7 linked regions of the Homo sapiens genome follow. The protein of the gene in region 6 purifies or fractionates together with the protein of the main gene of each other region. This does not show direct contact. Each region holds a gene or a part of one and is shown on either strand. Other genes may lie near its edges.

Region 1 (4,343 bases), on a different chromosome or scaffold from region 6:
TAAGAAGGCACAAAGGAAAATCAGCCACCTCCTGGAGGTCACTGTGGGCCACCTGCTTTGCTAAGAGCCAAGCACAGACCCCTGCATTCTCCCTGCAGGAGAGCCCACCCGGCTCAGAAGAAAGCAATTCCGCCTGTGGGGAGGAGAGGAAGGGAGGGGAGGGGAGGACACACGGTGAGGTGGAAGCAGCGAGCAGAGCTTCTCCATCCCTCCTCTCCTTCCCTGCCAGAAATGCAATTAAGCAAGTGGCCCAGACTCAGCCGCACAGACAGCGCTTCCTGCTGGGGGAAGTCAAAAGGGCTGTAGCAGTGGGAAAGGGAGGTCATCGGGCCCCAGATCTAATTAACCAACCTGCCTTGCTTTTGACGTTGCTGCATTTCCTCTATTAACATTAATGATGGTTGGTCTGAATGCCCAAGCATGGCCAGAAGCTTCCCTCCCCACCACCCAGTAGGTAGCACAGCCTGTCCCTGGGACCAATATCCAGTCTCCGTGGCAACCGCCTCCTGAAGATGCTTTAAAGAGATCTGACCCTGTCAGAGTTGTTGGGAGCTTCAGAGGAGGGAAAATGGAGTGTGGCGGATTCATCATTAAATATTGAAGCATCAAAGTCCTCTGAGACAAAAGAAATATTTTGTCATGCACCAGGAAGGTGGAGGCAGGCTTAAGGGCTGGCCTTGGGTGGTTTGGTTCTACCACAGGGTTTTCTTCATCCCTTTTGGGGAGGAAGTGGAAGGGGCAGCTCTGAGCTTCTTGTTTGAGCTGCAGAGTGGTAGACGCAGGAAGCTGGCATGCATTTCTAGGTGCCATGGGTCTTCACTGCTGAAGCAGTGACAGAGAGAAAGGGAATTGCCCACGGAGTGAGGGAGGGGTGAGCAGAGGAGGACTGCAGAAGTGACACTGGGAAAGCTCAGCAGGTGACAGGAACATTAGTCTGGAGAGGCCAGAGTCCCCACATCCCAGCACCACGCAGATTCCCTGCCCTGTCTCTCATCTACCTTGGGCGCTAAGCAAGGTTCCCATGGGCTCTCCCAGCAGCCAGGAGAATGCATCTGCCTTGCCCTCCAGGCCAGGCTAGATGCACTTGGAGAGACCTGGCCTCTGGCACACAGGGCCTGGGAACACTGAGCAGCCCAGGATAGGACATCGTTCCTCCCGAGTGTCACAGTGTGACAATCCCAAAAAACGAGGAACCAAGGGCTAAGGCAGGCTGACGCTCCGGAGTCCGCTGCTCTCTGTGCGTCACAGGCAGGAAGTCCAGCTACCTGCAGCCACTGGGGGGCATGGTGGGAGCCAGGCCCTCCAGCTCGGGGCGGCGCGCCTTCCTCCACGCTGGATTCATTTGTTTGTGGGAGGGAGGGCAGCACAACTTTGACAGTCCCATCTGCTCTGCCTTTGGTGACATCCCAAGGTGAGGTCAGTATTCTCTGCCCTCAAGGCCCTCTCAGAGGTCTGAGAATTTTTGATGGATCTTACAAACCAAAACCAAAGAAATCCAACAGAAAAAAATACCAGAAAATATTACTATAGCCTGGACTATTTTAGAGTTTATGACACTCAGCTGTCCAGTTACACGGTCTGTATTCCACAGGGATATGGACAACATGCCCTCACATACACACACGCGCACCCACTCCCACCCTCTGGCACCCATCCTCCCCTGCGCTGTGCACGAGGGAGCAGCCCAAGAGGCGCTGTCCTCTCCGTGGTGCTGTGGACGGAGCTGCGGCTCTCTCCCGGCTCTCTCCAATGCTGGGTTCCATTCCAGCTGCACTCCCAGAGCTGGGTCCTGGTGAGCAGCAGAATTCTTCGGGCTCCTTAGGCAGCTTCCTCATGGCCGGATGGTCCAGTACTGCTTCCCAGCTGGCTCTCCTGGGAAGTTCCTGGACCCAGGCTGGAATCTTTGCAGTGGCCTCAAAAGTCCCATGAGTCCAGCCACCTTAGTCCTGCCATTGGACTTTGGGGGTCCTGGGCCAGGGGACCAACCATCCCGTAAGCCAGAGGGTGGAAGAGGTAGAAGCTGTGAGAGAGAACCAGTAGGAGGCAGTTGGCACCCCCAGTGCCTCAGCTGAGGGGCTTTGAATTCCATTCCTCCTGCTGGAGCTCCAGAGAAATTCCCCATCGCCAAGCCCGGTTCTCTTTCACGGCCTTGTCTGTCTGAGTCCCACTGGGGCACACTGTAGCTGGAGAGCTTAGTAGATGCTGACTCAATGACAATCATGGAAAGGGCTCTTCCCAAGAGGCCCAGGAGGGCAACCCTTCTAGGGGTCTTGTCATGGGCTATTTGGCCAGGGGTGTTTGTCAACATGTGAATGTAACCCTCTTAGGCAGGCATGTGCTCACAGGCCACAGGCCCAGCACCAAGGCCAGGGACTGGGGAAGCGGGGAGCCTTCCAAACAACTCTCCCTTTCAGCCACTCAGCCACACACTTCCCATTCCCACCCTTCCCACCCCACCCGTCGAGAGCTCTTCCGGCAGGGGGCCACAGTGACTAAAGAGGGGTGCCCTGTCCCCCATTGCCCCCCGGTTCCCCCCTCCCTCACCCGGAGAGCTGTTCTGACAGGGGGCCATGGTGACTAAAGAGGGGTTCCCTGCCCCCCATTCCCACACTCCCCCTCTGAGAGCTGTTCTGGCACAGAGTCACTGTCACTAGAGGGGTACCCTTCCAGGTGCGCTGGGATGGCACAAAAGCTGAACCACCGGCAGAAGGGGAAAAGGCAGAGTTAAGCCCTGCTTCTCCTACCTGGCTGCACATTAGGATCACCTGGGGGACTCTGGAAACCACGGCCCCACCTGGGCTTGGGTGACGCAGAACCTCCAGGCATGGGCACTGGTGGTGTTAAAAGCACCGCAGGGGATTCTCGAATGCATCAGGGCTGAGGCACTGCTGAGCCCACACTGGGAGGGCATGTGAGGTGCAGAGATGCTCACCTGTAGGCAGTTCCCAGGAGCAGGCTCAGGATTCCCGCCACATGTATGCCCCTCGCCAGGGGCCATGAGGCCAAGCCCCAGGCACAGAGCCGCAGGAGGGTGTCCCACAGAATGCCTAGAGGAGAGGAGAGAAACCTGGAGTCAGCCAGGCAGGGGGTGACTTCTGGGCTACAGAAGAAGGAGGCACTCCAAGTCAAGGAGCAGAGAGTCACTCCCAGCACTGCTGCCCCACAGTGGCCTCCCGTCAAGGAGCAGAGTCACTCCCAGCACTGCTGCCCAACAGTGGCCCGCCCTCCACCTGCTCTGTCTCCCAAGTCCAGGTGGGTGGCACTGACCTGTCAACATGCTTGAGAAGAGCATGGCTGGGAAGTAGTGGTGGAAGTAGAGGACCCGGCCCATCAGGAAAAACGGGAAGTAATGGAGTGTCCAGCCGAGCAGGACCTGGCCGCCTCCTCGAAGCAGGACCTGGGACAACCCTGGGCCCAAGCAGCACAGCCCAGTCAGAAGACAAGGAGCGGGCAGAGATTCCAGGCTCTGGTCCAGCTCTGCCCCTTCCTTGCTGTGTGACCTTGAATATGTCATATCACCTCATTGGACCAACCCAAACCACGCTACAGAAACTGGAGAGGAGCAGCTGGGGCTCGAGAGCTCTGGTCAGGGCCCAGCCTAGTGAGGCCTGGGCACCAATGGCAGGTGCACCAAGCACCAGCAGGAGGCAGCCCAGCCTCTAAAGAAACCCTTCTGCGCCTGCAGACAGCTTCACTCCCTACTTCCACCTCCCACATCTTTGCTGCCACACAGATCTTTGCAGCGGCAGACAGGCGCTAAGGTGAGGTTACAGGTGAGGATGGAGTGAGGAGGTGTCTGGGACTATGACTGTTCAGACAGAGAGCTGCAGAGGCAAAAGGGCCTGTGTGACTGTCTCAGGTGCTGTGGCCCATGGTCTGGCAGCCAAAGTTACCAAGAACAGCACTGGGATGGGAACTCAATAACCCTGGAGGCTCCTCTCTAGCCCATGAGAGGACAGGGCCATGGAACAAGGAGGTGGCAGAAAAGATGGGCAGCTCTGTACACAGCATGGGGCTAAAAGTGAGGGCTGTGGAGTCAGATTGCACGGGTTTGAGCCTCAGCTCTATCACTTACTAGCTGTATGTCCTGGGGCAAGTTTCTTAATCTCATGGTTCCTTGGTTTCCTAATCCATAAAATGGGGGTCATAATAGCCAACGCTCTAGTGTTGTTGGGAGGAAGTAAAGTGTTTAACACAGCACTGGGTACTTGGGGGTTGTTACCTTTCAAAAGCAAAGGATAAGGGAAGGTGTGGGGTGGTAAACGCAAAGGATGGCCCATCAGCAGGCAGCCGGCCCTCCCCAGGGGTGCAGGTGCCCTGCTGCCGCCAGGTCAGGGGAGGGA
Region 2 (4,416 bases), on a different chromosome or scaffold from region 6:
CCTCAGCCTTCCCTAAAGCCAGATCCTGGACCTTCTCTCATGCTGGAAATAAACATGTGCCTCTCTGCCCAGTAAACAGGCAAGGGGCAGGATGGGGACAGCACCAGTTCCTACCCCAGGTGGCAAGAAATTGGAACCGTTCTGTCAGCCCTCCATCAAGATCTGGGGTGGGAGTCCCCCTTCCCTCCTTAGACCTCACTTCCAAGTTTTCCTGTGGTAGTTATGGGAAACAGGGGCCTGCTTGGCCCTGCTCCTACTCTCTTCGCCTTACCTTGGGTCCTCTCAGAGGTTCCCACCATGATTATTCCCTCTCTTGCTAGCCACCTCATCATCCTCCCGCCACTCTGGCGCAGGTGTCCTTGGCTTTGTTTCCAGTGAGGCCTTGAGATAGGAGATGTGCCTACAATTCAGAGATGGGAAAAGGTGGCAGTGCGTAGTAGACGAAGAGCACCTGTGTGTCCTTGCAGAGGGATAGCAAGCTCTTGCATACTGTGGTAGTGGAGATGCAAGCTGGTGGTAGTGGAGATGGGGCATACCTAAGGAGAAGAGGATGGAGGGGGTGGACATGATATTGGGGATGGGATATCTTGTGGCTGGGAGTGGCCACCTGTGAAGGGTCTGCTGGCCTTCAGAAGGAGGCCAAAAAGAGAGGGGTCCCCAGACTGCTGCAGATGCCTCTGGGAACCACACTTACCTTAAGGCACTGGGTCCCACTCTGAAATGCAAAGCCACTTCCCAGCCCTTCATTTACCAAGAATCACAGGTTCCAAAAGCGTGTACACATTATCTTCTGATGTTTCCTAATGTTCTAGACATTTGGAAAACAGACTCCTTTTTAGAAGTTGCCATGATTTTTCTTGGCTTTTATTAGCATGTGTTAAAATCATATTATCCAAACACTACCAGAAGAACATGTATTGTTCTGAATAAAGTGCTTAAAGAAAAAAAAATGCAACTTATTAAATTGGACATTCTTTTCTAGTTCATAAATTTTGGATTACAATCAGGGCACAAAAGGAGAAACAGAATGCAGTATTAGAGCGAGAAGCTTAGTTAAGAACTTGGGTGTAGACACAATACCATGTCCACTCTTCCCACTTCCTTGCTGACTGAACACTGCACCTGCATAAAGCAGCAAACAGCTTTGTTTCAATAAATACATTTCCCTTCATTCAAATCAGAAAAGTTAATTATAGTAAAGCATTTTTAATTTGACCATCTGTTTATACCCACAGGCAAAATTTATCCACAGAGTTTAAGTGTGAAAGTGTTATTTCATTGGGCCTTCAGCTTTCTAATGCTATTTGGGTTCAAGATTGTCTCAGCAATTCATTATTGGTTTCTTTATATTTACCTAGTACTATTTAATACCAACACTATAGTGTTTTGTGTTAAAAATGCCAACCAAGGATATTTTCACAGTTCTAGAAACGAGTGGGCCTGAGGCTTTCTTCCCAATAAACTAAGTTTTCTTTTAACTGGGTTTCTCACATTAGCACTCTGATATCTGCACAAAACCAAGTCCTGTTGTGACAGATTTTAAAATCGGTGATGTTCTGAAAAAATAGTAACTTGGAAGTCTCTGTGTTTGAATCTTGGGTGGTCATGTTGAGAGCAGGAAAAATTGCATTAAATACATTTTTAAAACATTCATTTGCAACCAAACATTTAAATCTTCCAAGGAACGTGCAGGGTGGTGATAGGGCAGCTGCAGTGTGAGCAACCCCATCAGGAGTGGCTGGTGGGTGGGCTTGGAGCTCCATCAGTGGCACACACTCACCGCAAGCTTCTGGACCGCAGACCTTGCATCCTGGTTGCGAAGCCTTTGACCTTCTTTTAGCAAAGAGAAAAGGTAGGCTGCTTCTACCTTCAAACAGTCAAGAGCAACTTCTGTTGAGTTCACCTTGCTGCTGACCCAGAAGTTGGAGCAGGGGCCAAGCTAAGGGGTGCAGAAAGGCTAACAGTACTTGCTGTAAAAAGAAGTCATCTTCAGTCATCCTGGGGAGATTCCCTTGCCCCTCTCTCAACTTGAGTGCTTTTAGCTTCATGCAGGAAAGATTTTAGTTGCATCTTTTATTAAATTTCAATCTCGTTTTACAAAAGCATACCAACTAGCAGTCCTGAGCAACTAGTATGAAATTTGCTGAATACAGCTAACAGAAAGCTTTCTAAACTATCCTGTTCTTTGTTTCTTTCTACAGGGGTGTCTGTAGAATATTCTTTAGTTTCACAGTGATATATGCTGTTTCAGGAAGCACAAGGTATTCTGTTTCTGGGAAGTGATGACCTACTTTTAGTTTGAGCACAAGTTTCCATGACTGGTTCTAAATCTGGCCAGATATTGCTAATACCAATGACAGGAGTTAGGGCAATTGGGAGGCTCTTGGTCCCCAGTTCCTGTCAAGGGTAAGCCCATCTGGGTCATGGCTGGGCTTTCACTATCAGTAGTTATATTTCCCTTTGATGCTTCAAAAAGCCTATGGTGAATCTGTTGCCTCACTTTACTTCTCCATTTGACTTGGAAGCCTGAGAACTTACTGAATTAGGATGAAAAAAGGCTCTGTACCTGCTAATATTGACGGCAGTAAGATGCTAGCTTACTATTTTGCACAGCACCATGTATAGTGCCTGTTAATCAGGCCAACTATAGCCAACTTTTTCTTTTTTTTTCTTTTTTTTTATATAAAGAAAATCTATGTAAGTTGAGGTTCAGAAATGCATATATTTTTTACTTACAAATATTCATCTGACCAAAATTCAACATAACCTTTATGGAACACTTAACAATTGTTTTGTTTTTAAAATAACATTTCATTCAAACTGTATATAATTCAGTAAAGTTTTTTATACAGCAAGCAATGCTTAAACCCTGGAAAATCTGTAGAAAAGAGATTTTCACACAAAATAAGAAAAGAAAAATCTGAGGTATCCCTCACACACACACATCCATTCATTCTGGCCCATGTACGTGCACATACACACGCATGCCTGTGTGTTCACACAGACATATTCATTCTCACTCACAAAGTGGCTGCAGCATAGGCAAAAATTGTAGGTCCAAAGGAAAATGATTGATTGTTCTAATAAAGAGTCCGAGTAGCTCAGAAAAAAAAACCAAAACAAAACACAAGAGTCTTCTGAGGAAATTACTACCTCAAAAAAATGTTCTCAAGATGAATTTGAGATCTAAGCCTACTAAACTGCTTTTGCAAAACAGCTCCCTGCAGTCCAAGGTGACTTGTGCAAATAGAAGGAATCAAATGAGGCTGGTTCCTGTACTTCCTTAAACAAGGAGGTGGGATGCTCGCAGGTGCCCAGGGGCACTCCCATCATGCCAGGTACTGCTGCAGTGCCATCTTTGCCCTGAAATCACAAAATTCCTGTTAGCCATCATCTCAGAATTGTAATTGGGGTAAAAAACCCTATGGTTCAATGATGATAGCTGGGGAAGTCTAAAAAAGTAAATCTCCAGAGGGAATTGGGGTGAGCCCAGGTGGGCACCTACCTTAAGGGGAAGAGATCTGCAGTGGGTAGACACCTGAAATCTACTCTGGCTATATTCTTCTTCCTGTGGATCTCTCAGAGGGCTGTTCCTGCACTTAAACCTGCTGCAGCTCAGTGACATTCCACAGTCCCTGGTATGTGCTGACATTCTATGTTTTCTTTTGTCACTGGCATATAGTTGTGATAGGTCTTACATTCTTTACTTTTTCTTACTGCCATGTAGGTTTTATGCAGTGAGGCACAACACTAGGGAGAACACTTAGGGTTCTGGGAAGCAAATAAGAAAACTGACCGAGGAAATGGTGTTGAGGTGATTAGAAGGTGCATGGAAGGGGCCAAGAGCCCATGGGATGAGGCTGTCTTATGCTTCACATGCCTCAGAACCGTGGAAGAAGGCTACAATTTCATCTTGTTCTTCTCATCACACCTGATGACACCATAACTGATCAATGTGAGATGTGTGTTGTTACGGTGATGGGGGAAGAAGGTGGCCAGGTGGAAAGGAAAAGATAGAATGTAGGCCGGGTGCTGTGGCTCACACCTGTAATTCCAGCACTTTGGGAGGCTGAGGAGGGCAGATCACCTGAGGTCAGGAATTCAAGACCAGCCTGGCCAACACGGTGAAACCCTGTTTCTACCAAAAATACAAAAATTAGCCGAGTGTGGCAGCGGGCACCTGTAATCCCAACCACTTCGGAGGCTGAGCCAGGAGAATGGCCTGAACCTGGTGGGTGGAGGTTGCAGTGAGCTGAGATGGTGCCATTGCACTCCAGCCTGTGCGACAAGAGTGAAACTCCATCTCAAAAAAAAAAAAAGAACAAAAAACAAACAAAAAAACCCAAAAAACAAACCAAAAAATAATGTGAACAGTGACTTAATCTATCCTGATCCTTGTAAAAGTGGCCTCCTTTG
Region 3 (4,343 bases), on a different chromosome or scaffold from region 6:
TGTGGTTTTCCAGGCCAGTGACTCTCATAACCATGCTCCTGGCAGACACCAGGGGCTTGGCAAGGTAGCCTGAGAGGTGGGTGCTTGGTTGGTTTCTACAAATGCAGAGAAATGTAGACTTTTTACGGTGTTAACTTTTTGTCTTATTAATCTTTTTTAAAATCATTGGTGCCTACTTATTAACACATGAACAAAGAGCAATTAACAAAGCACCCAAGCCAGCACATGGCTTCTTGCTTACGTTTTCCACGGTGTGGTTTTTACATTCAGACATGATTTACATATGTTTTTCCTCATATAAATTGTTTTTAGTTCATATGTTTTTCCTCATATAAGTTGTTCTTAGTTCATGTGACAGAATTAAACGTATCCCTATGTATCAAGGTATTCTAAGACTACCTTCAGGGACCATTTGTATAGTTCATTACTAGAAGTTTCTCTGAACATGTAGAACACTGAAAAAAGTATTTACTTTTTTTTTTTTTTTTTTTTTTTGAGACAGAGTTTCACTCTTATTGCCCAGGCTGGAGTGCAATGGCGTGATCTCGGCTTACTGCAAACTCCGCCTCCAGGTTCAAGCAATCTCCTGCCTCAGCCTCCCGAGTAGGTGGGATTACAGGCATGCGCCACCACGCCCGGCTAATTTTGTATTTTTAGTAGAGATGAGGTTTCTCCATGTTGGTCAGGTTGGTCTTGAACTCCTGACCTCAGGTGATCCTCCCACCTCGGCCTCCCAAAGTGCTGGGATTACAGGCGTGAGCCACCATGCCTGGCCAAAATAAAAGGTATTTTAGGCTGGGTGCGGTGGCTCACACCTGTAATCCTCGCACTTTGGGAGGCCAAGGCGGGTGGATCACCTGAGGTCAGGAGTTCGAGACCAGCCTGGCCAACATGGCGAAACCCCGTCTCTACTAAAAATACAAACATTAGGTGGGCGTGGTGGCAGCCAACTGTAATCCCAACTACTCGGGAGGCTGAGGTAGGAGAATCACATAAACCCAGGGTGTGGGAGGAGGTTGCAGTGAACCGAAATTGTGCCATTGCACTCCAGCCTGGGCGACAGAGCAAGACTCTGTCTCAGGAAAAATAAAAAAGTATTCTACCCCAGAATCCACCCTGGAACCTTGGAGAATTGGTGTAAAAGGGACAAATGACTGAGCCAGTTGGAGAACCAGTGGCTTGAGGGAGCCTTAGTGGTAGACACAGTGATTTTGGAGCCTCTTTGGGTCTAACCTTGGAAAGTAAAATCTACCAAGTTATGATCTGCTTTGTATGCTAGAATATTAAAAATTTATTTGTGGAAACATCCAAATTATTTTCTAAGAGACTAGCATGTAACAATTGAAGTCAAAGAAGGGCTGTCTGCTGCTGGCAAAATCCAGGAAACCCTTCATTCTCTGGGTGATTTAGATTCAGGTCCATTGCCACAGCCTGTTGGCAAACTGGCTGCGATCTAACTCTGGTTTGGATTGTCAGGTAGCAGTGTCTAGGTACTGGAAAGAAGTTAAAGCAAAGTTTATTTTTCCTTTGTACAAAGGTTAAAAACTCTCACTCAACATCTTATTTTGATATTTGGGTTTTTACCATAGGAGTATCCAACCCTTACAACCTTCTTCGAAGGAGAAATAATCAGCAAAAAACACCCTTTCTTAACTCGCAAGTGGGATGCAGATGAAGATGTTGATCGGAAACACTGGGTGAGTAAATCTGATCTGTGCTGGGTCATCTAGGGGCTGCTAGAGAATTGAAGAAATGCTGGGAGCCAGAGACCTTGTCCCTTATTGAGGATTACTGGGGCTTTGCAACCAAGTAAAAGGTTGCACTGCACACAGACCTCAGTTGTTCCATCTTCCTTATGAGGACAGTTTAAATACGATCTGACCTGCTGCTTAAATAGCAAATGGTTGTCTGATGATAGCAACCCCAGAGTTCCAGCCAGAACTCTGCTCAGCTATCAGAATCTTAACAGTGTCCCCCCATCCTTCCCACCTGTTTGTCCATCTTCTGTCCACTGTTCCTTTCAAATCACCTCTGCTTGGGGAAAACCCTGTGAAACATGCAATGATGACCTCCGGCTTCGGGGCTGGCATGAGATGGAGATGATGTTGTGGGAATCTGCCTGCCCACTGGCTTATCAGGGCAGAGCCACATCATTTCTTTTTATCCTGGCTGCTGACAGACAAGTATAGTCTTGTCTTAAGTACACCACTATAAATCCTGCTGCCCCCCTTTTTAACTGTCAAGTGTAGAGCATTCTCACTCAGCAGTAGTGAATGCTTCAAGACAGTTAGTGTCCTGGGATCTTTTCATTTGTTGTCATATAAGTACCATGTCTTCAAAAATCAGTGTCTCGGCTGGGCGCGTTGGCTTGCGCCTGTAATCCCAGCACTTTGGGAGGCCGAGGCGGGCGGATCACCAGGTCAGGAGATTGAGACCATCCTGGCTAACACGGTGAAACCTCGTCTCTACCAAAAATACAAAAAATTAGCTGGGCGTGGTGGTGGGCACCCGTAGTCCCAGCTACTCTGGAGGCTGAGGCAGGAGAATGGCGTGAACCCAGGAGGCGGAGCTTGCAGTGAGCCGAGATTGTGCCACTGCGCTCCAGCCTGAGCAACAGAGTGAGACTCCGTCTCAAAAAAAAAAAAAAAAAAATCATTTTCTCAACCTAATAGCCTTTTGCTTTAGTTGACCATGGTGATGGTGAATTTTTGTTTAACATTGAAGAAGTTCAATGGGTTTACCCTCCATAAACCAACCAGAAATGGCTGTGTCAGTAGCAAAGATTCTAGAACTCGTTCTTCCCATTGCCTCTCACACCTGGCTATCTAAACTCTCCCCTGGTTCTGGCACAGCAGTCTGTGGAGAGAACTCCCGCAGACCCTTGTCTTGAGTTCACCTCACTAGAGATCAGTTGCTTTGCTTACTAATGTTTTTTATTTGTTTATTTTATTTAAAAAAAATTTTTTTTAGAGTTGGGGTCTTGCTCTGTCGTCTATGCTGGAGTGCAGTGGCATGATTATAGCTCACTATAGCCTCAACCTCCTGGGCTCAAGTAATCCTCCCACCTCCGCGCCCCAAGTAGCTAGAACTACAGGCACGTGCCACCACACTGAGCTCATTTTCTTTTATTTTTGTAGAGACAGAGTCTCCCTATGTTACCCAGGCTGGTCTTGAACTCATGATCTTAAGTGATCCTCTTGCCTTGTCCTCCCAAAGTGCTGGGATTATAGGTGTGAGCCACTGACCCAACCTGTTTTTTTGGTTTTTCTTTTATGGGGGTTTTTGTTTTGTTTTGTTCTGTTTTGTTTGGTTTGGTTTTGAGACAGAGTCTCAGTCTGTCACCCAGGCTGGAGTGCAGTGGCGTAATCTCGGCTCACTGCAACCTCTGCTCACTGCAACCTCCGCCTCCCAGATTCAAGTGATTCTCATCTCTCAGCCTCTCAAGTAGCTGGGATTACAGACGTGCACCACCGTGCCTGGCTAATTTTTGTATTTTTAGTAGAGACAAGGTTTCGCCATGTTGGCCAGGCTGGTCTTGAACTCCAGGCCTCAAGTAATCCTCCTGCCTTGGCCTCCCAAAGTGCTGGGATTACAGGCGTGAGCCACCATGCCCAGCCCCAAGCTGTTTTTTACTTGAGTAAAAAAAGGAGATCTATCAAATACTGAGGTTCAGTTAAATTTAAATTTAAACTTGAGCTTTTTAAAGCGTTTTTTGAATTCTATACATTTTGATTGTTGTAGCAAATGGACACTAAAAACTAGACAGTCATTTGTGTCTCTCTGTGATACAAGAGAATGCACAAGACCTGAGTATCCAGAAGGTTGGGGGAGCCCAAGTGGTGTATGAAGGTGCTGGCCACCAGCAGGTGGAGTTGGAAGGGCTCCCTAGTACCATCTGCGCCCACCCCTGCCCAGGGCTAGGCTCTTCCTGCATGGCTTGCTGCCTCACGAGATGGCTCCTTCCTCTCCTGTACAGTCCCAGAGTAGAAGGTTCTTCCTTGTAGTAAACCACAGCCTCTCTCCCATTCAACTCTATTTTCCATTTCATATTGGTCCTGCAAAAAGCAAAGTCTTTGAGGCCCAGTGACACTCAGTTTTAGGCTAGGTTGACTACAAATTAAATACTTGGAAAGCAACTCTTAATTTTCCCATTGACTTCCGTTAGAACATTGGAAGATATCTGGATCTGCAGACTCTGCTAGACTGGACTGAAACATTTTGGGTGAGAGAGGAACTAAGAAGGCCACCCTTGGTACTGGCATGTGAGGTGTGGTTGAGCCAGGGAGCTGAACCTATGGAGTGCTTCCTCCTCCAACAGTTTGTGGCTGCTTTTGTAGTACTCA
Region 4 (4,343 bases), on a different chromosome or scaffold from region 6:
GACTCTGTGGAGGAAAGACAAGGCCTGGTCACTGGCCTGCCCAGGGCTTGGGCCCAGGTCAAAGTTCCCTTGGGGGTGGAAGGAGGGGGCAGTGGACAGATTCTCTTGGAACAGAGTGTTCAGTACCTCTGTGTAAGTGTGTCCCAGCCACCAGGCCATGGCCCTGAAGTCATGCCAGGAACCTGAGGACCTTAGCCCCATGTAGAGCGCTGGGCTGGCCTGGGCCTACTGCCATGGCCTAGGACCCATCATGAACTCAGCTGGGCAGACAGAGGTCAAGGTTTAGGTTCAACCATGGGAGCCCAGGAGTCCTATGAGTCACCAGAGAGGGCCTGTACAGAGCTTGCTGCCCCAGTGTGGATAAACATCAGCTCTTTCTGGGGCCAATTGGGGTGGGGGTTGGGAACCACCCAGGTAGCTATGGGCTAGCTTCTGTTTTTGTTAGATCCACTCACCTAGGCCAGGCATGGTGGCTCACACCTGTAATCCCAGCACTTTGGGAGGCTAAGGCGGGCAGATCACCTGAGGCCAGGAGTTCGAGACCAACCTGGCCAACATGGCAAAACCCGTCTCTACTAAAAATACAACAACTAGCCAGGCGTGGTGGCACGCACCTTAGTCCCAGCTACTCAGGAGGCTGAGGCACGAAAATTGCTTAAACCCAGGAGGCAGAGGTGGAGATTGCTGTGAGCCAAGATTGTGCCACTGCACTCCAGCTTGGGCTACAGAGCAGACTCTGTCTCTAATAATAATAATAAATAGATTCACTCACCTAAAATGGCGCTGTTGAGGGCAGCACACACAGGTTCCCTCTGGATGGGGTCAAGCTGCTGGCCAACTGGGCAGCTCCAGGGGTCTGAGTATGCCAGCAGGCTGAAGGCATCCTACAGGACAGGGCATTCTTGAGAGGACTGTGGCACACACCATAGCTCACCCTGCTACCCGTGGCTCCAGAGGGAGACAGGGCCCTGCATGATGCCCAGCCTGGAATGTGGGGTGTAGGGTCGGGCAGGGCTGTACTCTCCCCAGAGCCTAGGTGTGGAGGGCACATGTCCAGTGGGCCCAGATGCCCCACTTCCCTCTGCAGACCTGGCTGGAGCCCACTCTTTCCTGCTGCCCCCTGGACTCTCCCAGAGCCACCCTGCCCCCAACACCAAATGGGGCCTGCTCTGCATGAGGCCCGGCTCATCCTGTACCTGCAGCATCTCTGTGTGGGCCAAATTCTTGCCGTACTCCCGGCCCAACTGCTCACTCAATGCCTGCAACTCGCGGCCAAACAGAATGATCCTTTCTGTGGCAGCCTGGTTGCCCCCGCAGAGCTGCCGCCGAGGATGCCTGTCATCTGCATCCAGAACCCAGTGGAGAACGTGTTAGGAGGGGTGAAGAGGGAAGGGCAGGACTAGGGTGGGGCAGGAAGGACCCCGGGTGGGCTGCAGCTTCTGCCAGAGGCAGGCAGGGCTGGGAGGAACAGGTGAGGCAGCTACAGTCAAGGCGTTCTTCTCTTCATTCACCTGGCGCACAGTCTAGGATTTAGGGAGGACTTGGAAGTTGTCCCTCTTCCCAGCCTGCACAGACGCAGGGTGCTCATTAGGGTGCCCATGCTCTCGAACACCCTCCAGCCTCAAACATAGGTGGTCTTGGCACAGGCCAGGGCCTTCGTACATTTGGAGCCACCTCAAGGACCCATTCACAATCGGCTAAGGAGGCTGTGGACCAGGTCTGGCTGAAGCTTCTCAAGATGCCAAAGCCTGCCTACCCCAGCCCCTCCCAGGGGAAGAGGGCACCCAGACTGCACACTGCCCTCAAAGAATAGCACACCGGGCCGTGGCTCTCACCCATGCTGGACTCATCCGTCTGCAGGTCCTCATGCTTGTAGGCACCATTAACAATGCGTGTGGACATGCTTCCTAGCACACCGTTGGGGTAGTGCTCTGCCTCCATCTCCATCTCACTGTCGCTGTGGGGAGGGGTTGAGGTGGGAGTTGGCCCAGGGGGTGTGGTTGGAGCAGCCTGGTTGGGCCTCCTTTCAAGCTGTAGCCATGGGTTGCTGTGGGTGAACCGAGGACCCCCAGGAACATGAAAGGACAGCTCAGGCTTCCAAGTCTTCAGCACTTGGCCCCTACTGTGACACCAGCTATCCTCAGAGGCCTGTCACCTGATTCCCACCCTTGCCCCAGTGCTGCCTCTGTGATTCTCCCCTCCCTGGCCCTCCTCTGAGTTCACACACCTCTTCTACATATCCCCCAACCTAATGACTGGGCCCCATGGCCCCCATGGGCAGCTCTGTGGCCTTGGTTGGAAGCCAAACTCAGGTCAGCCTTGAGGTGTACCTGGGGATGCTGAGAGCCACCTAGAGCTCTAGCCTGCGGCTTAGCTTCCCCTGCCTGCCCAACCTGGCTGTCTACAAGCCAGAGCCAGGGAAAGCTCCCTCATGATGGACCCTGAGGGTTCTCACAGGCCCGGCCTCTTTGGAGGAGACCACATCCTCAGCCTGGCATCATTGGAGCCTCTGGAGAAAGCCAAGGCCAAAGAAAGTGCAGCTAAATCGTGGGGAGGGCCAGAAGCCAGAGCTGATGTCTGGCCCGGTGGGCCAAAAATTAGGACTCCAGGCACAGACCTGAGATGGAGGCTGGGGGTGAAGGGCAGGGCGCTCAAAGGACAGACTGCAATGGGCCCAGCTGGCATAAGGCAGAAGGCAGAGGAGGAAGCAGAGCAAGGCAGGCACCTGGTCTCCTGGTTACTGGTACTGCTGTGGTGCTGGGACTTGGTGGAGTCTGTTGAGTTGGACTCGGAGTAATTGACGGAGGATGGGGAAGAGGACGAGGAGGAGGAGGAGGACGAGGATGAGGAGCTGGGTGCAGGGTATTTACTGTGGTTCTGTTTGCTCTTGGTGGACGCGACGCCATTGCTACAGCTGGGACTGTCTGCTCCTAGAAGCCAGGGTGACAGTCAGAAGAGGAGGGGCAGCTTCCCATGAAATGAAGCCCCAAGAACAACCACAGTGGTCCCATTTCCCTTCTCCCAAATCCAGCAGTGAGCCCTGAGCCCAGCCCAGGAAAGGGTATGTGGAGTGGCCTCTCTCCTCCACACCAGTTCTTCCCAGAGCCCTCTGGAGAGTGGCTGACCTGTGTTGTGCATGTGGGAACTACTGGGGCCATGTCGGGGACTGAGGCTGGGGGAGCCAGGGTAGCTGTCCTGGGACTTGGGGCTTCGGGAGCTCAAACTTCGGACCTCACTGTCCGTCCCATTCACCATCTCCACAAACTGCCGGCACCTGTGGAGGGAGCGGAGCAATAATGCTCTGGTTGTGGTCCAGGTTGACGTTCCCACCACCAGCTGAGAGGGGCTGGACTCTGGGGGAGCTGGGGGTGCCCAAGACTTACTTGAGCATGAAGAGGAGGTTGGGGTTGTGCTCCAGCAGCCCTGGGTAGAAGCGCTGGGTGGTCTCGATGGCCTCGCCCACACGGCCCTCCAGCACCAGCTTCTGGATCTCTGCAGGGTGCAAGAACACAGCAGTGAGCGAGGGCTACAGGCCTCTCCCACAGCCACACACCTGGGATGCTGCCAGCCTCAGGGTAGGGTCCGGCTCAGAGTGCCTCGCCAGCTTGAAATGCTCACAGGAGAGGAGGCTGGAGAAAGAACCTGACTGCCCAGCCCAACAGATCCTGGTTTCTGCCAAGTGTCAGAGAGTCCTCAAGAATATGGGGAAGATGGAGGGGAGACTCTCAGCCCAAAGGCAGGAGGGTAAATGTGGAGGTCTGCTCCTGCGGGGCACATGGTGCCAGGGACCTGGGGGCAGGGTAGGGCCCCAGCTGGGGCAACATGATCTGGGGATGGGCACCCAGGCAGCTTGGCGGCCTGAGTGGCTCCTCTTCAGACAGACTCCTCTCCTTCCAGGCCTCACAGGGGAATGGCAATGGAATCACACTGGTTTCTGACCAGGGCTCTGGCTGGTGGTCTTCAGGGGCTGCAGCATGCCCCCTGCTGGGAGAGGAGGCCATCCTCCTCATGCTGGCACCTCTGATGTTGACACCTCTCACGCCATCAGCATCTTGCTGCTGCCTTTTCGCTCTTGCCGTGGGGCCTGGTGCATCTCGCTGGGAGCAACTTCAGAGTCTGAGGCTCTCATTCATAGATCCCAAGTCTGGGATCCCTTTCCGTCTGTCTGGCTGAGCACAGCTTCTCTGGGAGACAGACACGTGCACATACAGAAGAGACAGCAGGCTTGGAGAGGGGTAGGCAGGCACTCACAGACACGCATATCCACACCCACTTGCCCTCATTCTCCTTTTCTCCTTCTAGCTCCTCACTGGGCTCCTTTTCCTCTTTTCCAACACCCCTCC
Region 5 (3,676 bases), on a different chromosome or scaffold from region 6:
CAAGGACAAACACCAGGACGTTCTATTTCTCTGTTTCTCTGTTATATAGCTTACTATTGCCATCATCTGGCTGAGAATAGATATAGAATGATAGAATATAGATATAGTTCTTTTATATATGTAGATAATTTATATGTATTATATTTTATGCTAGACTGTAGTATAAATTATATCAATATATCATGTATGATATTAATCTAGATCTATAGATACACATATGTGCATATGCATATAAATCTAGATATATAGACACAAATATATATGATCGTTTTATAGATAGTGAGATAGGTTATAGGTCTATTAACTGAAGTGACCTTGCTGTTGACTAAGCGCAAAGGACAAAATCGTTGATTAAAATTTTTCTGCTACCAATAAGGTAGTTATAATATAACGAGAATAAATTGCATTTACAGAGCTATCTCTCTTTTCAGGAAAGCTGAATAACTACATTAAATAGACACTTTATGATAAAAATTATCAACAAATTTATAACTCGATACACCTGAAAATCTAAACGTTTAAGAAAGTGACTACTCTCAGAAAGGCTGTTTGGCTTTGGAGTTTGGGGGCGTTTTGTTTATGGCTTTTTGTTTTTTTGTTTTTGTTTTTGTTTTTTGCTATTTGGCCACTAACAAGTTTTTCAGCATATTCATGTTGTACCTAATGGATCTCTACTGCAGGGCCAAGACTTAGTAGCTGGGTGTGGTTAGTGGACTATTGGGCAAGGTTAGTCATTGTAGGGGGCAACTGTCTGGCAGTCCAGGAGAATCTTTCTCTGTCACTGAGTATAATGTAATATGCCAGTAAGTGATAGCAGGTATTATAGTGAATTCATAGAATATTCTACTTATGTAATTCTATTTATTCAAAGGTAGCTACCACAATACCCAGAATGTAATGAAGCTCAGAAGGCCTAGTGAAATTTTTACTATGTCTTATGTTCTTGGATTTTCTCCTTAGAAAACTCCTGGAGGGTGAAGAGACTAGATTTAGCACATTTGCAGGAAGCATCACTGGGCCACTGTATACACACCGACCCCCAATCACAATATCCAGTAAGATTCAGAAACCCAAGGTGGAAGCTCCCAAGCTTAAGGTCCAACACAAATTTGTCGAGGAGATCATAGAGGAAACCAAAGTGGAGGATGAGAAGTCAGAAATGGAAGAGGCCCTGACAGCCATTACAGAGGAATTGGCCGTTTCCATGAAGGAAGAGAAGAAAGAAGCAGCAGAAGAAAAGGAAGAGGAACCCGAAGCTGAAGAAGAAGAAGTAGCTGCCAAAAAGTCTCCAGTGAAAGCAACTGCACCTGAAGTTAAAGAAGAGGAAGGGGAAAAGGAGGAAGAAGAAGGCCAGGAAGAAGAGGAGGAAGAAGATGAGGGAGCTAAGTCAGACCAAGCCGAAGAGGGAGGATCCGAGAAGGAAGGCTCTAGTGAAAAAGAGGAAGGTGAGCAGGAAGAAGGAGAAACAGAAGCTGAAGCTGAAGGAGAGGAAGCCGAAGCTAAAGAGGAAAAGAAAGTGGAGGAAAAGAGTGAGGAAGTGGCTACCAAGGAGGAGCTGGTGGCAGATGCCAAGGTGGAAAAGCCAGAAAAAGCCAAGTCTCCTGTGCCAAAATCACCAGTGGAAGAGAAAGGCAAGTCTCCTGTGCCCAAGTCACCAGTGGAAGAGAAAGGCAAGTCTCCTGTGCCCAAGTCACCAGTGGAAGAGAAAGGCAAGTCTCCTGTGCCGAAATCACCAGTGGAAGAGAAAGGCAAGTCTCCTGTGTCAAAATCACCAGTGGAAGAGAAAGCCAAATCTCCTGTGCCAAAATCACCAGTGGAAGAGGCAAAGTCAAAAGCAGAAGTGGGGAAAGGTGAACAGAAAGAGGAAGAAGAAAAGGAAGTCAAGGAAGCTCCCAAGGAAGAGAAGGTAGAGAAAAAGGAAGAGAAACCAAAGGATGTGCCAGAGAAGAAGAAAGCTGAGTCCCCTGTAAAGGAGGAAGCTGTGGCAGAGGTGGTCACCATCACCAAATCGGTAAAGGTGCACTTGGAGAAAGAGACCAAAGAAGAGGGGAAGCCACTGCAGCAGGAGAAAGAGAAGGAGAAAGCGGGAGGAGAGGGAGGAAGTGAGGAGGAAGGGAGTGATAAAGGTGCCAAGGGATCCAGGAAGGAAGACATAGCTGTCAATGGGGAGGTAGAAGGAAAAGAGGAGGTAGAGCAGGAGACCAAGGAAAAAGGCAGTGGGAGGGAAGAGGAGAAAGGCGTTGTCACCAATGGCCTAGACTTGAGCCCAGCAGATGAAAAGAAGGGGGGTGATAAAAGTGAGGAGAAAGTGGTGGTGACCAAAACGGTAGAAAAAATCACCAGTGAGGGGGGAGATGGTGCTACCAAATACATCACTAAATCTGTAACCGTCACTCAAAAGGTTGAAGAGCATGAAGAGACCTTTGAGGAGAAACTAGTGTCTACTAAAAAGGTAGAAAAAGTCACTTCACACGCCATAGTAAAGGAAGTCACCCAGAGTGACTAAGATTTGAGTCCATTGCAAAAGGTTAAGCCATATGACAATTTCAAAATGCATGTGATTGGCAGCTTCAAAACAGAACGGGTTCTCCCATGGGGGCTCCAGACATTGTATTTTACTTTGTGCAATATGAGGGGACTGCATGCAAGCTCAGGGTGCTCCCTCCTCAGTCTTTGGGGGATTCAAATGCATGATATTGTATGTACCTGGGAAATTTGCCGATTTCCTAAGCTGTTGGAAGGGGGTCACTTAAGGGGGGATGTCTTGAGATGTATTATGCAAAGTACCAACTGAGCCAAAAACAATAAACGAAACACAGAACTCAGCCTTAAGAAAGCTATATATGAATAATTATGTTTACCTCACTGGTGCATTTAAAATGGACTTTTGTTCATGGGAGAACCTCGTTGACATGCACAGTTTGCAATCTTATGTTGATCGATGTTAAACGTCACAGCAGTACTTGCTCAATAAAGGTCATATTGGAAACATAGTCAATTGCTGAGTCTTATGTCATTTCTCTTTTTCTAATTTTTATTTATTTATTTTTATTTAGAGATGGGGTCTTGCTATGTGGCCTCAAGCAGTCCTCCCACCTCAGCCACCCAAAGTGCTGGGATTACAGGCATGAGCCACCACGCCCAGCCTGTTATGCCATTTCAAAGTGAAATCTCCACTACCTGAAGCTTTCTTGCCCTGAAATAGATTATTGGGGGGAATCATAAGTAAACTGCACATCTTATTGCTATTTCCCTGACAGCAATTACTTGGAAAACGTAATTGCTGAAGATATTTTCAGGTGTCAACATCTTCACCGAGCCCGGTCTTCATCCCAAAATTTTAAAATCATATTTTTGAAATAAAAATAAAAGCATCAGATACAAATAGGAATCTGGTGGGATAGAAATCTTCAGTGTTTGTTTCTATCCCAAAACAGAACTCAGAACCTCTAGGTAAGAGGACCAATAAAGGAGGGGTTCATAACTTGTGCCTTGGAGTTGGGACAGAGACAGAGGAGCTCATGGCATTTATGACGATGTGTCCAGTGGGGACAGGGCTGACATCACTAACACTCCTACCCGGAACTATCCAGCCTCAGAGGCATGCCTCCTGTGCACAAACACACACATACACATTGTCTGCATCACTAATGCTTGATTTGACTGACAGAGATTT
Region 6 (5,063 bases):
CGCTGCCTTCTTCGGACGCTCCGCTGAGGGAGGAGGCTGCTGACTCAGGGTCCGAGGCCTCGCCCCCAGCCCCACCACGGCTGTCCCCCTCCATCCGCCTGGGCCCAGGCTTCATCCGGCAGTGGTCCTCTGGGGAGATGGAGACACACACATGAACCAAGGGACCAGACATCCCATCACAGGTCCCGGGACTGAGAGAGGCTGCAGTCCCCGAACTGGATCCCCCAACCTGGGCTGGTCCCCTAAAGAGACAGAGAGACAAGGAGTACGGTAGAGACGCTGGTGGCTGAGTAGAGCCAGTTGGGGTCTGTGGGAGGTGGTAATGGGTGGAGCATTTTCTCAGAGGCCTGGGTTGGCAAGAGGTCTTACGGAGGCAGCCGACCAGGGGCCTCAGGACCCCTGTGACTATGCGCGGTTCCCATAGGGGAGGGAGAAATTTCTGGGGACTGGGCGGGACCTCTGGAGAGTAGCCTCTGGAAACCCAGGAGGCAGGCAAGGCCTTGGCTGGAGTCGGGGGGTCAGACCGAGAGAAATCAGGGGCCCTGGGTCCAGCAGGCTGGGTCCCACCTCCATCTAGACAGAGGGAGCCGGCAGGCGGAGGCCCAGACACAGATTCCTCTAGAAGGCGGGTTAGGGGAGGGCTCTGGTGCCAGGGTCCCCACTGGGAAAGTGCCGAAGCCGCAGGGCCAAACTGTCTGTGCAAAGGAGTCAGTCACCCAGGATGGAACCATCAGTGAGAGGAGACAGTGGCAGGCCCAAGGGCAGCCAGAGGTGGTTTGTTCCCGAGCAGAGGGAAAGCCAGATCCCCAGATGCTGGGCTTCCAGTAACAGAGACACCACAAGACCATAGCCCCCTTGCCTAGGATTTTTGGGGAAAGGGTTGAATTCACAAAGAGAGATGTGGGAGCTTTTGAGGGGTCTTCCCAGCCAAGGAGCTAGCAAGGCTGAGATGAGGGTAGGTGGGGTAGAGTGTGGGTTCTCCAGGCCATGGGCTGTCGGGCAAACGGCCTGACCATCCGGGGAAGAGGATGGGGCTGGGGTCCAAAATGTATTAAACAGGGCACAGGGTCCCACCAGTCAAGAGAAGACGCTAGCTGTGAACTGGCTGGGGCTGGGTGCTGCTGTGGGAGCTATCTGGGCTGCTTCTGGCCATGAATTATAGCAGAGCAAGGTATGTGGGTGGGGACTGCCCAGGAATCAGGCAGGGTTTGAGGGACAGCACCTGCTGGGGTCACCACCCAAAAAGGCCCACAAAGGAAGGGACTTAATGTCTTTGATGGGGAAGGAGTGCTCATTAACCAAGGATGGGACAGGGTGGGTGGGAAGATGGCCCCTGGTGTCACAGAGGGGAGGGGGGGACAGGAGGAGGCCGGATGGCTGGACTCTTGGATCTTGGAGAAGACAGGGACGGGAGGAGGAGCAGGGGCCCCCTGAGGAAACCCAAAGAACTAGGGTGGGCCTCTTGGCCAAAGAGATGAAGGAAGGTCCCCCTAGGAGTCAGAAGAGAGGGGCTCTCAGGTGCCAGGGTCCCTGAAGTCACCATGGGCCAAGGAAGCAGATGGCAGGGCACTGGAGGCTGATGGGATTTGGGGAGCTGACGGAGAAGGCAGGAGGACGGGCCCCAGTAGACAGTTCATGGGGATGAGGCCCTGGAATCAAGTGAGGAGGCAGCTGGGCCTGGGGGCCCAAAACAGGCAGGGGACTAGCAGATAGGGCCAACATGGCAGGTCCCACCCAGCCAGCCAAACAGTGGAGCCTTGAGTCTGGGTGAGCGGGTACCCAGTAGCGGGACAGGGAGGCATGTGGATCAGAGCACCCCACACACACCTGCCTCCATCCGAGCAGAAGAGATGAATTTGTCCAGCTGGCACCGCAGGAAGTCCCTCTCTTCCTCCAGGTCCTCGATGCGCTTCTGCAGCCAGGAGTTCCTCTCCAGAGCCATGTGCAGCTGGGTCTTGACGCTGTTCATCAGAGCCAGGGCGGAGGACGCAGCCTCCGGAGGCTCTAGGGACACAGCGAGGGTGGGGGGACCAGGTCACACCCTGGGACTCAGGGCTTGGCTTCCCAGCTGACTCCAGTCCCTCCACACCCCCTCAGCTCACCCTCGAAGTTTCTCCGAGAGGGGCTCAGACTGTAAAAGATCTGTGGGTCTAGGTGGGGTGCCTCATCGAAGGGAATGGAGATCTCGAAGGTCTCATCGTCCTTCACTGGAGAGGAGAGGCCCCGGGTTACCCCAGAGAATTCCCCGGGCCTCTCAGGCCACCCCCCAACCACGGCAGCCTGGAGCCGACCGCACTGGGACCCAGGGTAGGGAAGGGGACCCAGCTTCCTCACTTGTCCGCCTCCGACTGCTCCGGTCATTCATGGCGCGGCTTCCTACGGACCCCAGCAGCCGAGGGCCTCAGGGGCACTGGACAGAAACGGCAGCCACAAATGGAGAGACGCAGATGGACTGGAGGGTCCATCCTGGGGGAGGTGAAGTGAGACAGGAGGGACCTTCTGGCCTGGACCCCTGGTCTGAGGGAGGAGGGAGCCTGGACCCCAGGACTGAGGCAAAACGCGCCTGGGCTTCAAACTCCTGGGCTCCTGGAGTCAGGGGCAGGGGGCCCAGCCGCCTAGGTCCTGGGGGAGAAGTGAGCTGGGGACGTGGGCTCCTGGGTATCGAAGGAAAAGGAAGCTGAAGCCCTAAATTGCTGGGTGCCCCAAGGGGTCGCCTGACCAGGGACACCTAGCCTGAAGGGGAAGGACCCTCTCTCATCGCGGGCCACTGCCAGGCCTAAGGAAGAGGCAGGTGCAGGGGGAAACTGCCCCAACTTCCCAGGGTAGGAGGAGGTCCAGCCCGTGCGCGCTGCCTCCTCTACCTTCGGGGCCCCCACACCCCTCCCCCGCACTCGCGTGGGCGGGCGGACCGTCCCCCGGTGGTGGGGGCTGGGCGCGTGCGCAGTACGGGGAAAGGTCACGCGTGGGGGTGCGCCCCCCCCGCCCCCGCCCTTTGTCCCGCGGGTGGGAGGGGGAGCGGTCGTGGAACGATTCCAGCGGGAACATGCACTAGGGCGGGGGTGCAAACGCGGCCACCATCCCCCGCCCGCGGGTGCCCGGGGTCCGAGGGGCCGAGGCCCCCCGCGCTCACCCACCCGCTCGCGGAATCCGGCTCGGGGACCGACGGCGGCGGCGCCCATGCCCGGCGCCGGGGAGCGTCTGCAAAGTGTCACGGGGAGCCGAGGGAAGCGCCCACCCACCCGCGAACAGGCGGGGCGGCAGGGGAGCGTGTCGTGGAACTGAGCGACGGAACGGGCAGGGACGCGGGGACTCGCCCAGTCGGGCCAGGCTAGCGCCCCTCGTTGAAGAGTCCCCGGGTCCAGGTGAGGCCCGCCGTTTGCGGCAGAAGCAGAGGGTCTGCACTTGCGCGATAGCCCCTTACAGCACTCCCCCGCCCTCCCCGAAGCTCAGGCAGGGAACATCACGAAATTCCCATCCTGGAGAGCTGGCGAGTCTCCGGGGGTCCCCGGATTGGGTGGCGGTGTGCCCAATGGGCCCAGAAGGCAGGAGAGTGTTTGAGACACCGAGAAAGTTGGAGCGAAAGGAGAATCTACTTTTAACGCTCTCTCAGGAACTAGCCAGCGCGGACCCCTCAGAGCTCCCCTACCTCCTACAGCCAGACCCCAAGGTTCTCAGGGATGTGGGGGCCAAAATCGGGGGAGTTACCCCTCTCCCGGAAAATGAGGGCCAGGAACACGCCACCCCCATCCCCATGTTGGTAATTAAGAGCTGGCTTTGGAGCAAAGCTAGATTCCAGTCCTGACTGTTCCTGCTCCTCCCCAGCCTGTTAACTCACCTGCAAAATGGGGAAATTACAAGCCCTTCTAAATTTATTGTGAGGATGCAGTGATGCGACACACAGAAGCTCAGCCCAGCACCTGGCCATCGTCAGGGCTGAAGAGAGGAGCGCTGCTGGTATTATTTGAGGTCAGATGGTGGGGTATGATGGCAGCCTCTGGGAGGCTCTTTCCCACTCTGGGGAGTATGAACGGAAGATTTGTTCTTCCTCCCAAAAAAACAGGTCGGAAGAGCAAATGAGGCCTAGCACAGTGCCTGGCACAAAATAGGCAAGAAAAATGAATGAATAAGCAGATGTTTATTAAGCTTCAGGCTCAGCTCCACCTGCCTCTCCTGTTCACCAGAAGCATCCAAGCTCTGGACTGTGGCCAGCCCTTATAAGAGCAAGGTCTTAACCCGATGGAGGGAGAATCTAAATGTCTGCACCGCCTGCAAAGCTGTGACCATGATCCTCCCCTCCCCACTTTACAGATTAACTGCAGCCTGGTCCAAAAATTCCAGGGGGAGCCATCTGCCCTAGATTGGTCTTTTCCAAACTACAGGTTCATGGGTGGAGAATTCAATAGAATAGGATGAAATCAGCAGTTTAAAAAAATATTTAGCCGGGCGTGGTGGTGCACACCTGTAATCCCAGCTACTCAGGAGGCTGAGGCAGGAGAATCGCTTAAACCGGGGAGGTGGAGGTTGCAGTGAGCCGAGATCGCACCACGCTCCAGCCTGGGCGACACAGCGAGACTCCGTCTCAAATAGTAATAATAATAGTTGATGGAAAAAAAAATGCACAAACTAAAGCTAACTATGGTAAAGAAATTTTTGTGGGCCGGGCGCAGTGGCTCACGCCTGTAATCCCAACACTTTGGGAGGCAGAGGGGGGCGGATCACGAGGTCAGGAGATCGAGACCATCCTGGCTAACACAGTGAAACCCTGTCTCTACTAAAAATACAAAAAATTAGACAGGCATGGTGGCGGGCGCCTGTAGTCCCACCTACTCAGGAGGCTGAGGCAGGAGAATGGCATGAACTCGGGAGGCGGAGCTTGCAGTGAGCCGAGATTGCGCCACTGCACTCCAGCCTGGGCGACAGAGCAAGACTCCGTCTCAAAAGAAAAAAAAAAAAAAAACTTTTGTTTCGAGGCCTAGTGCCCTGAGGGAGGCCGAGGTGTGTGGATCACCTCAGGTCAGGAGTTCGAGACCAGCCTGACAAACACGGTGAAACCCATCTCTACT
Region 7 (3,944 bases), on a different chromosome or scaffold from region 6:
CCAGCTACTTGGGAGGCTGAGGTAGGAGAATTGCTTGAACCTGGGAGAGCCAGGATTGCACCAGTGCACTCCAGCCTAGGCAACAGAGCGAGACTCCATCTCAAAAACAAACAAAAAAAAAGTGTATTCATAGATAGTATCTGTTGATTGAGAATATAGAACAACAGTAACCCCAGAGTGAAGGAGAAAGCAGCCGGCTTTGGGGCTATAAGCAAGATGCTGGCCACATGCTGCCCTTCTTCCACAAGGGCTCATTCTGTGTCTGTCAAAGGTGGCTGACTGCATCTGCCTGATGGCCCTAGACAAGCCCCAGGCTGTGCCCGTGGATGTCCATATGTGGCACATTGCCCAACGTGACTACAGCTGGCACCCTACCACGTCCCAGGCGAAGGGACCGAGCCCCCAGACCAACAAGGAACTGGGTGAGGAAAGTGGGCTGCAGGGGCTGGCAGTGGGCTGGGATGGTAGAAACTTCTCTCTCTCTTAGTCACCTCTCCCTCAGACCCTACTTCTGTTGATGGGTCACAGAAGGGGTCAGATAACTTAGTCTCATCACTTCTGATTTAGGAAACTTTTTCCGGAGCCTGTGGGGACCTTATGCTGGCTGGGCCCAAGCGGTGAGTGTACCTAGGTGTCCTCCCTAGGTTTCCTCTCCTCCAGCCCAGACCCAGTGGACTCTTCCACCACCGCCCCAGGTGGCCCTAAAGGACTCTCCAGCCACCCCTGTCCCAACCCCAGTGGATTCTCATTGCCTTCGGCCCTGTTCCCCAAGGACTCTTCCACCTCCCAACACTGTCACTAGTCTCACCAGCCCTGACCCCAGTGTACCCTCCTCCCCACACAGACTCCACCCTCCTACAGGTGCTGTTCAGTGCCGACCTGCGCCAATCCCGCCATGCTCAGGAGCCACCAGCAAAGCGCAGAAAGGGTTCCAAAGGGCCGGAAGGCTAGATGGGGCACCCTGGACAAAGAAATTCCCCAAGCACCTTCCCCTCCATTCCCCACTTCTCTCTCCCCATCCCCACCCAGTCTCATGTTGGGGAGGGGCCTCCCTGTGACTACCTCAAAGGCCAGGCACCCCCAAATCAAGCAGTCAGTTTGCACAACAAGATGGGGTGGGGGATATTGAGGGAGACAGCGCTAAGGATGGTTTTATCTTCCCTTTATTACAAGAAGGAACAATAAAATAGAAACATTTGTATGGAAAATGCAGTGAGGAGTGGTAGGGAAGCAGGTGAGGAGGGGACAGGGCAGAGAAACTCCCGGTTCAGGGAGGGAAGGGGAGCAGGCTGCCCCCAAGCCCTCCCACGCAGAGGATCATGACCCGAGGTCCAGGGCCCTAGAGCTGGTGGGGCAGTGTGGGGGACAGTTCTGTGCCCGGCTCCACGCAGCAGTCTCGACAGCAACAGCCAGCTGCCGGCCCTGCATGGGAAGACAGAACAGAGGTGGCCGCAGGGGCAGGCCCTCCACTCCAGCCCGGGTGCACCTTTGTGGACCACCCATGCCCTTCTGCAGAGCCCGCTCCTCACCCCCAGCCACTGGTGTCAGCAGCTCCCCATGGCTCGCCGTCTGCCCCTGCCCCTCCTGGCTGGTGCCCAGCTGCAGTTTCCTCATGTGCCGCACCACAGCCGTGGCATTGAAGGCTTGCTGGCATTGAAGGCATTGAAGGGAGAGGGGAGAAAGGACTTTTGAGAGAGTCAAGTCATGGGGCAGGGGCGCAGTGGGATTCTTGCAATTGTTCTGTTATTTTCATTCAGGAGTTATTTTATTAATTCCCCTAAAGCCCCCCAAAAACCTCTACAAGGCTTTATTATATATTTACACACACACACGCACATATGTTAGATGTATGTGTATCTATATATATAAATAGAAACATAACTATAATTCATATTAATATGTAATAGCAAACACTATAGCACTGTATGTCAGGCACTGTTCTAAGCACTTTACGTAGTAATTCATTTAATCTTCATGAAAGTCTTTGAGGTAGGTACTATTATCATTTTCAAAGGAGGAAACTGAGGCACAGAAAGCTGAAGTAACTTGCTCAGGTGTGTCTCTATTCAATATCTCCACCTAGGTGTCCCACACACCCCTCAAATTCACCATGTCTAAAACTAAAACCATCCCCCCAAAACATGTTTCTGTCCCTGTGATAACCATCTCAGTCATGGTACCACCACCATCCATTCTGTTCCCAGCCACAGTCTTGGGCCAGCCCTTGACATCTCTTTCCCCCAACATCCATTGCATCGTCATGTCTTGTCAGTTTCACCTCCTAAATGACTCCTGGATCAACCACTGTTCTCTGCCCCCTGTTGCTGCTACTGTGGTTCCAAACCCTTACCATCTCCTGCCTGTATCTCTGCCACAGCCTCCTAATGCGTCACCCAGTCTTTACTCCATGCCATTCTCTGCATCCTGAGAGCTCTTTCTTTTTTTTTTGAGGTGGAGTCTCACTTTGTTGCCCAGGCTGGAGTGCAGTGGCGCGATCTCAGCTCACTGCAACCCCCATCTCCGAGGTTCAAGTAATTCTCCTGCCTCAGCTTCCCAAGTAGCTGGGATTACAGGCACGCACCACCATGTGTGGCTAATTCTTTTATTTTTAGTAGAGACAGGGTTTTGCCATGTTGGCCAGGATGGTCTTGAACTCCTGACCTCAGGTGATCCAACCACCTCGGCCTCCCAAAGTGCTGGGATTACAGGCGTGAGCCACCATGCCTGGCCCTGAGAGCCCTTTCTATGCAGCAAATACTTGCCTAAGATTCTTCTGGGGCTCCTCAGTGCCCTCAGGATCAAGTTGGTGCTCCTCTGTGGCATATGAGGCCCTAAGAGGCCTGGCCCCTTACCTGCTTCTCTAAATTGGGCTCCTGCCTCTCAGTCCCCTCAGCCCCTCCAGTCTGGCCAGGCTTAGCACTTGCACTTCCCGGAATGGCTATAGACATTATTCCGCTATGCCTCACTAATTCCTACTTAACTGACAGCTCTGTCAGGTCATCACCACTTTTATGACCTTTCTCGGACCCCATAGGCTGGATCAGATGCCTCCTGAAGAATTACAGACTTCTTCCTCTAGACTTGGAGGTGAGGGACCCTCTCTGGAATAGAGAAGGTGTTGGGAGTGTTTGTTGAATGAAAGAGTGAATGAATGAAGTCCTTCAGTAAGGATCCCTAAGCAGTTACTGTGTGCCCAGTGTGATGCCAGGTGCTGTGCAAGCTGAGCCTGGGTAGGGATGGGGAGGAGTCCTGGGGAGGCTGGGACCAGAACTAGGGATATGGACTCACCTTCCACTTGCTCTTGGCAAAGTTCTTCTTGATCTGCTCACTCACCGACTGGTGGATATTCTTATCTAGAGCTGTATCTCCTGCAATCCTAGGATGGGGTTATGTGGTGGGTTGCCTATGAGGGCAGAAGCAGACCTGAGGGCCCCAAATCCCGCCCCAGCTCACAGGTTGTGTGAATTCTCACCATGGGTGCTGCAAGGCCTGCTCACAGGTGAATCTTTTCTCTGGGTCCTTCTCCATCAAGTGCCGGATGAAATCTTTGGCTAAACCCCCAAGACAAAAGCAAAGATAATGACAGCATGGTACTGCCTGTGTACTCCCCAAGAGCATACCCACTCCCTCAGGTCTGGCCTGGCATCAAGACAAAGAGGCCAAATCAGTCCATGCCCCACCCCACCCAACCTATGCTCTTCTTCAGGCCCTCCCACCCCGTGCCTTCCAGCTCTTTCCTTTCTCTCTTAAGAAAAACATATGGCCGGGCACAGTGGCTCATGTCTGTAATCCCAGCACTTTGGGAGGCCAATGCAGGTGGATCACGAGGTCAGGAGTTCAAGACCAGCCTGGCCAAGATGGTGAAACCTTGTTTCTACTAAAAATACAAAAAAAATTAGCCGGGCATGGTGGTGGGCGCCTGTAATCCCAGCTACTTGGGAGGC

Evidence for each region.
Region 1: the proteins of CCDC106 (region 6) and POMT2 purify together in Homo sapiens (affinity purification with mass spectrometry; one large-scale study listed by BioGRID and IntAct). This does not show direct contact.
Region 2: the proteins of CCDC106 (region 6) and ARMC8 purify together in Homo sapiens (affinity purification with mass spectrometry; one large-scale study listed by BioGRID and IntAct). This does not show direct contact.
Region 3: the proteins of CCDC106 (region 6) and GID4 purify together in Homo sapiens (affinity purification with mass spectrometry; one large-scale study listed by BioGRID and IntAct). This does not show direct contact.
Region 4: the proteins of CCDC106 (region 6) and RANBP10 purify together in Homo sapiens (affinity purification with mass spectrometry; one large-scale study listed by BioGRID and IntAct). This does not show direct contact.
Region 5: the proteins of CCDC106 (region 6) and NEFM purify together in Homo sapiens (affinity purification with mass spectrometry; 3 studies listed by BioGRID and IntAct, with this or other methods). This does not show direct contact.
Region 7: the proteins of CCDC106 (region 6) and CAMK1 purify together in Homo sapiens (affinity purification with mass spectrometry; 3 studies listed by BioGRID and IntAct, with this or other methods). This does not show direct contact.

The regions. Positions count from the first base shown.
Region 1 is NC_000014.9:77,275,462-77,279,804, forward strand, and holds part of POMT2 (protein O-mannosyl-transferase 2), read right to left. Parts: coding exon of another isoform or gene 4,223-4,343; intron 4,126-4,222; coding exon of another isoform or gene 4,076-4,125; intron 3,409-4,075; coding exon 3,268-3,408; intron 3,048-3,267; coding exon 2,933-3,047; intron 2,021-2,932; coding exon 1,915-2,020; 3' UTR 1-1,914. UniProt on the Homo sapiens protein: Transfers mannosyl residues to the hydroxyl group of serine or threonine residues. Coexpression of both POMT1 and POMT2 is necessary for enzyme activity, expression of either POMT1 or POMT2 alone is insufficient.
Region 2 is NC_000003.12:138,294,806-138,299,221, reverse strand, and holds the end of ARMC8 (armadillo repeat-containing protein 8), read right to left. Parts: intron 3,364-4,416; coding exon 3,330-3,363; 3' UTR 849-3,329; downstream 1-848. UniProt on the Homo sapiens protein: Component of the CTLH E3 ubiquitin-protein ligase complex that selectively accepts ubiquitin from UBE2H and mediates ubiquitination and subsequent proteasomal degradation of the transcription factor HBP1.
Region 3 is NC_000017.11:18,052,538-18,056,880, forward strand, and holds part of GID4 (glucose-induced degradation protein 4 homolog), read left to right. Parts: intron 1-1,589; coding exon 1,590-1,697; intron 1,698-4,165; coding exon of another isoform or gene 4,166-4,343.
Region 4 is NC_000016.10:67,726,555-67,730,897, forward strand, and holds part of RANBP10 (ran-binding protein 10), read right to left. Parts: intron 3,493-4,343; coding exon 3,384-3,492; intron 3,275-3,383; coding exon 3,126-3,274; intron 2,931-3,125; coding exon 2,726-2,930; intron 2,048-2,725; coding exon of another isoform or gene 1,958-2,047; coding exon 1,836-1,957; intron 1,343-1,835; coding exon 1,197-1,342; intron 885-1,196; coding exon 773-884; intron 5-772; coding exon 1-4. UniProt on the Homo sapiens protein: May act as an adapter protein to couple membrane receptors to intracellular signaling pathways.
Region 5 is NC_000008.11:24,916,101-24,919,776, forward strand, and holds the end of NEFM (neurofilament medium polypeptide), read left to right. Parts: intron 1-960; coding exon 961-2,506; 3' UTR 2,507-2,993; downstream 2,994-3,676. UniProt on the Homo sapiens protein: Neurofilaments usually contain three intermediate filament proteins: NEFL, NEFM, and NEFH which are involved in the maintenance of neuronal caliber.
Region 6 is NC_000019.10:55,646,349-55,651,411, reverse strand, and holds the start of CCDC106 (coiled-coil domain-containing protein 106), read right to left. Parts: upstream 3,201-5,063; 5' UTR 2,366-3,200; coding exon 2,335-2,365; intron 2,208-2,334; coding exon 2,103-2,207; intron 2,005-2,102; coding exon 1,828-2,004; intron 130-1,827; coding exon 1-129. UniProt on the Homo sapiens protein: Promotes the degradation of p53/TP53 protein and inhibits its transactivity.
Region 7 is NC_000003.12:9,756,200-9,760,143, forward strand, and holds the end of CAMK1 (calcium/calmodulin-dependent protein kinase type 1), read right to left. Parts: intron 3,552-3,944; coding exon 3,473-3,551; intron 3,377-3,472; coding exon 3,289-3,376; intron 3,088-3,288; coding exon of another isoform or gene 2,988-3,087; intron 1,648-2,987; coding exon 1,530-1,647; coding exon of another isoform or gene 1,423-1,529; coding exon 1,340-1,422; coding exon of another isoform or gene 1,318-1,339; 3' UTR 1,148-1,317; downstream 1-1,147. Other genes in the region: OGG1 (N-glycosylase/DNA lyase), read left to right, coding at 272-422, 568-617. UniProt on the Homo sapiens protein: Calcium/calmodulin-dependent protein kinase that operates in the calcium-triggered CaMKK-CaMK1 signaling cascade and, upon calcium influx, regulates transcription activators activity, cell cycle, hormone production, cell differentiation, actin filament organization and neurite outgrowth.